Linked DNA regions of Homo sapiens: region 2 is linked to region 1. Evidence: fine-mapped expression QTL. A gene starts in region 1. The other region holds a variant in brackets. All regions are shown on one strand. Distances are between the middles of the regions. Region 1 holds the start of TCP11L1 (t-complex 11 like 1). Region 2 overlaps TCP11L1 (t-complex 11 like 1).

The links. PIP is the estimated chance that this variant, and not a neighbour inherited with it, causes the effect.
Region 2: its variant is the best candidate, but not a certain one, in a credible set for the expression of TCP11L1 in visceral fat (GTEx, PIP 0.57).

Annotation. Positions count from the first base shown.
Region 1 is chr11:33,037,881-33,040,784 of GRCh38, forward strand. TCP11L1 (t-complex 11 like 1) reads left to right here and starts at 1,692. Exons shown (of 10, transcript NM_018393.4): 1 at 1,692-1,912. RefSeq lists enhancers at 1,095-1,642, 1,363-1,712, 2,193-2,512 and a silencer at 1,693-2,092.
Region 2 is chr11:33,066,323-33,069,226 of GRCh38, forward strand. TCP11L1 (t-complex 11 like 1) reads left to right here. Exons shown (of 10, transcript NM_018393.4): 9 at 2,365-2,537. Among named protein-coding and RNA genes, the nearest start is that of LINC00294, 8.4 kb to the right of the region's middle. RefSeq lists an enhancer at 1,929-2,430. The variant C/G (reference allele first, on the strand shown) is at 1,702.

The DNA.
Region 1 (2,904 bases):
TCGACCTCCCAAAGAGCTAGGATTACAGGCGTGAGCCATTGCACCCAGCCATATTAATCTTTTAAGGAAGGTTCTAGCCTGCTTCCCCAGGGAGCTTTTAAAACTTGTCTGGCATCACCCTCCCCGGAGTTTTGGATGATACTTTTCCAACCCCTGCCCCTGAGATTCCAAGTTGTATTTGTAGTCAGGGCTGAAAAACACTAGAGACTTAATGGTACGAGTTTAGACTCAGAAGAACTGCATGTTTTCTTTGCAGATCTTTTTTTTTTTTTTCAGACGGAATCTCACTCTGTCACCCAGGCTGCAGTGCAGTGGTGCGATCCCGGCTCACTGCAACCTCTGCTTCCCGGATTCAAGCAATTCTCCTGCCTCAGCCTCCCAAGTAGCTGGGATTACAGGCATATGCCACCATGCCCGGCTAATTTTTTTGTATTTTTAGTAGAAACGAGGTTTCACCATATTGGCCAGGCTGGTCTCGAACTCCTGACCTTGTGATCCACCCACCTCCGACCTCCCAAAGAGCTAGGATTACAGGTGTGAGCCACCGCGCCCAGCCATTCTTTGTAGATCTTAACAGTTCCATTTAGTTGAGTATCTTAAGGGTTTTTGGTGTTTTTTCCTCCAAAAAGTGAATCTTCACCAGAGAACTTCTGTTTTTGTCTTTTTTTTTTTTTTTTTAAAGCAAAGACTTTAATGTGCAAGTTAGTAAATGGTTTGAGGGTCTGGTATTGCACTCGGCCTTCAATACGTTAGCAATAACTACCCACATGTGATCTATTTAGAAGCAGTGTTTGAAAGCACCAATGTCACCCCATCTGCTTTTTTGTAGTTTTTTTTTGTTTGTTTGTTTTTGAGACAGAGTCTCGGTCTGTCTCCAGGCCGCAGTGCAGTGGCGCGATCTCGCCTCACTGCAACCTCCGCCTCCCAGATTCAAGCGATTCTCCTGCCTCAGCCTCCCGAGTAGCTGGGACTACAGGCGCGCGCCACCACACCCAGCTAATTTTCGTATTTTTAGTAAAGACGAGGTTTCACCATGTTGGCCAGGATGGTCTCGATCTCTTGACCTCGTGATCCGCCCGCCTCGGCCTCTCAAAGTGCTGGGATTACAGGCGTGAGCTGCTGCGCCCGGACTAACTTTTTTTTAAAGCTGAGGAAATGAGAGAAGGGGAATAAACTTTGTGTAGCTACAAACAGGATGGCAAAATTAAATTTCAAAGAACGGGCGGGGAAGGTTTCAGATGCAATGGCTTCTTATTCCTTCTTTTGACTGACCCGCGCCTTCTCCGCCTCCCTTTCTCCTCGCGTCACCCGCACCAGCGGCTGGGATGCGGCGCGCGTTCCGTCTTTCCGTATGGAAACATGGCGCCTAGGGGCGGGCCATCCCCAGCTTCGAGCCACCGCCAGCTGAGACTCATCGGCGGGCACTCGGCCATGCCTCTCGCGTTTCCGTACGAAAACATGGCGCCTCACTGCGTGCGGCGGGCGACTCTTGGCTGGGAGCCACTGGCCACGGAGCCCCCTGAGCGGTCATCGGCCATGTTTTCCACCTCTCCCTGAGGAAACACGGCGCCGCCCAGCTGCGAGTCACCGCTTACTGAACCCCTTCGGCAAGCAGGGGAAAGACCCTCCCGCCTTTCCGTACGAAGACATGGCGCTGCCCTATATTGGGCTGGCGCCTCCCGGCCAAGAGCAGTCTCCTCCTTCCTGATGCTGAGAAGCGGCCGCTCTGACCGCTGCCCACCCGAGTCGGGCTGGGAGGACCGCCCGCCGCGTGGCGAGGGATGCGGCCTCGGAGGGGCAGAGGCTGAACCGCCCCTGCCTGCCGCGCATCCCTCCGGCTTCCGCCGCGGCGCCAGCCCGCGCCTGATTCGCGGCGGGAGCGGCAGGAGGGAGAACGCCGACTCCGTGGCAGGTGAGAGCGGGAGCTGGGGCGGAGGCTGGCGGGGCCCGTCCGGGAGGCGCGCGGTCCAAGTCGCAGGCATCTCTTCGCCTCTTCCCGTCGGATCCCATCCCGGGATGTCGGGGGCAGGCGAGGAAGAGGCGGGGTCCGCGGGCGGGTGGAGCTCACCCCTCGAGGCTGTCCTCTCGGCGCGCCCGCGTCCTCCCCTACTCCCGGCCCTGCCACTCCCTCGCTGGCCTGAACAGCTGTTTACAACGGAATCCGGACGCCGGGCGCGAGTGGAGCTCAGTGCCAGAGGAGGGGATTCCCGGCGCCGGGGGACAGAGCCCCTTTTTTCTTTTGCCGAAAGACCCTTTCTGCTGGGGAGCCTCTTGTGTCCAGCCTAGGCCCGCGTGCAGCGCCGACGGATGACCGTCTTCTTGGCAAGTGCGAGGATCCTCCTCCCCTCGGCTCTCTTTTTAGACACAGTGGGGGTTGAATGGATGCGCGCGATATAAGCAAATTAAATGGTTCGTGGCCGCATCCTAGAGCCCTTTAATTAGAGTTACCATTTGTAGAAGGCCTGCCGTGCACAATCCCTCGTTTCATCTCCCCCCAAACCGAGCAGGTAGGTAGCTGTGTTTTACAGAGGAGGACACTGAAGTTACACAGCTAGTAAAGAGCCAGAATTGGGGCCCAGGTATGTCTGAAACCAACGCCCAGCCTCCCAGATACAGTGACATCACAGAGATGACGTAGGGATTCATCTCTATCAACAGATACTTGTGGGTGTCTATTTGGGGGATATACAGATGGAGCATAAGTGGGGAATATGACTGGTCCTGGCTCTTAAGAAGTTCGAAATCTAGGTGGGGAATTTTAAAATAAAAACTAGCACTTTTACCATCTGGCCCCAACGCATCTTTCCATCATCTCTAGCCACTTCCTTTTCTCATTTTCTTGTGCCTTGGCTTCTGCCCTCTGAGTGAAATGCCCTCCTTTTCACCTCCTCTCCCCCTCCTCTC
Region 2 (2,904 bases), 28 kb after region 1:
AGCAGTAGGGAGCCATTGAAGGATTTGAAGCAAGAGGGGGAACGTAATTAGATTTATGCCCTTAAGTTTAAATTTTGGCATGGGGCACATAGTAGATGTGAGGGAGCATTTAGGAGGCGAGAGAAGAAGTGGCTCGGGCTGGGGGGTAAGCCATGAGCAGGGTGGGGAGCGCTGGTACCAATGGTTGCTTGCCTTGAGGAATTGGAGATCCCGGGCTTAGAGGTCCCGCGGCCCTCCATTCCCTGTTAGCATGCTCCTCCCGGGGCCTGGCTCGGTGTTGAGTGCCATCAACTCATTTGTTCTCCCTACGCAGGGAGCAGGATGCTGTCTGACCCCTTCCTTCTTTAATGGGGTTGTCTTTGTCTCCTGACCTCCAAGGTTCTTGTGTTTGTTTGTTGAGTGCTTTATTCCTCTCCCAAAGCCATTCAAATGTATTAAACTCTTACTGGAGCTTATGAAGAAACTGGAACCCAGAGACATTAATTGGGACAAAAATGTTTGTGACTAGGACCTGCAGTAAGAAATTCATTTTCCATTGTGACCTAGTACACACTTAACACACGTGTAACAGAAACGAAAACTTCTCAAACTGGAACTGACCCTAACTGTGTTTAATGCAGCCTGATTGTTTCTACTCTATTCTTATTCCATTAAAAAAAAAAATTGGTTGCTACCCACTGAATTGCTTTCATAACCGACTAACAGTGAAAAGCAGAGCCCTAGAGGAAGGTCATGAGAGAAACCAGCTATATTCCTGCAGAGCTGCATGTATGTGGTTGAAGTGTTCTGCCCTTGCTTGTTCCCTGTAGGCGTTCTGTGCTCAGTGTAATGCATCATTTTCTTACCCAGCACGAGTCCGCATCTGCACGCGTGCAGGCTTCAGTGACCGCTCCTACCATGGAGTCATGTTGGGTGACTTCTATGGTTTCCAGCCTATAGAATATCTTTGAGTGGTTCTAAGTAAATGCTCTATCTAACAAGGTCCAATTCAGAGACTTCTTCAAGGGAAGTACCCCCTAAACATTCTCATCCTTACAAAATGGAGGAATTTTACTGCTGAATTTTCACAAAGCATGGCTGTGTTCAGTGCAGTGTGGGGCGTGTCCGTAAGTTGTGACTAGGGCCTCAACAGTTTTGACAGTCAAACTAGTTTGCTGAGAGGCCAGGAAACTTGTTTGCTCAGCTGAGGGCCTAGCCTGAGGCCTTTGCACAGGTACAGCTCTGGGCTGTCACCTAGGTCCCCTGCCTGGAGAACTACTCTGTCAAAGCTCCCGCTGAGGGTGGGATCCAGGTCAGTGCTTTCTTGGGAGCCCAGCCTTGCACTCCCATATCCTCCCTGGTCCTCCAGGGGTGGGCACAGAGCTGGTGCCAATGGTGAGTGCCAGGGCTTGCTCCCATGCCCCCCAGTAATTCTACATACAAAGGATCTAGACCCACAACAGAGGCAGTTACCTTCTCACAGCATGCCTGCCAGCATGGGGGCTCCCCACAGGCACCCTGGGAGAGCCTGGGGGACCCAGGGTATCCAGGTACTCTTTTTTTTTAACTTTAGGATTTCACTTTTCGTTATTCTTTTATTTTTTAAAAATTTTTTAATTTTTATATATTTTTTTATTTTTTTGTGATGGAGTTTCACTCTTGTTGCCCAGGCTGGAGTGCAATGACGTGATCTCGGCGTCCACTTCCTGGATTCAAGTGATT[C/G]TCCTACCACAGTCTCCTGAGTAGCTGGGATTACAGGCACCTATCACCATGCCCAGCTAATCTTTTTGTATTTTTAGTAGAGATGGGGTTTCACCATGTTGGCCAGGCTGGTCTTGAACTCCTGACCTAGAACTCCTGATCCATCTGCCTTGGCCTCCCAAAGTTCTGGGATTATAGGCGTGAGCCACTGAGCCCGGCCTCTTTATTCTTTTAAAATTAGTTAATACATGTGTATGTTTCAAAAATCAAAAGGTACAAAAGGGCATCCAATGAAGAGTTTCTCTCTCCCTCTTGTCCCACAGCTACCAAATGCCTGCTTTCTTGTGTATTCCTCCAGAGGTATATCAAGATATTCTGAGGTCATTCCAGGCTGATTTTATCACACAGAGGCTAGCAGGAAGTTGTGCTTTGGGTCGTTGGTCCTGGTATACTCTGAGCCCCTGCCCTTCCCACTGTCCTTTCTAGCAGAGGGAGAGAAAGAAAGTCCCCCTGGTCAGGTATGCACAGCCTGAGAGGTAAGGTGGCAGGGAAAAGAGTCTCAAATTGTCCCTTGAACACACAAATCCAGTTATTGGTGCCGTCATTCTCACCCGGGTGTGGGCGGTTGGAGCTGGTTAGAGGTGTATTTTACTTATAGGCCCTTTCTCCCCTCCTCTGCCCCAGCTCCTTCCATCTGAAGGACGTCCTCACTACCATCGGGGAGAAGGTGTGCCTGGAGGTGAGCAGCTGCCTCTCCCTGTGTGGGTCCTCTCCCTTCACCACGGACAAGGAGACCGTGCTCAAGGGCCAGATCCAGGCCGTGGCCAGTCCCGATGACCCCATTCGCAGGATCATGGGTACGTTTGGGGAAGGCAGGCAGCAGGGATGTGCCCTCTGAGGGGCTGGAGCACGAGTCCATCTGAAGAAACCTGAGGGCTCAGCTGGAGTTAAGGTGCTGATGGGTGAGGAGATGGTGTAATGAAGCACCACAGAGAGACCAGGGCCACCCAACAGATGGGCACAGGACCAGGCAGCCATCATTGTTCTAAGGGCTGCAACCTTGGAATCACTCTCCTGGGTTCACAAGCAGTGTCCCAGGGCAGCTTGGGCGTGTAACTTGACACTCGAGTTTCCTCATCTCTAAAGCAGGAATAAGGGCAGCAACCTTACAAGGTCGCTGCAGGAACTCCCTGGGATGAGAAGGTGAAGCGCTTTCCGTAGTGC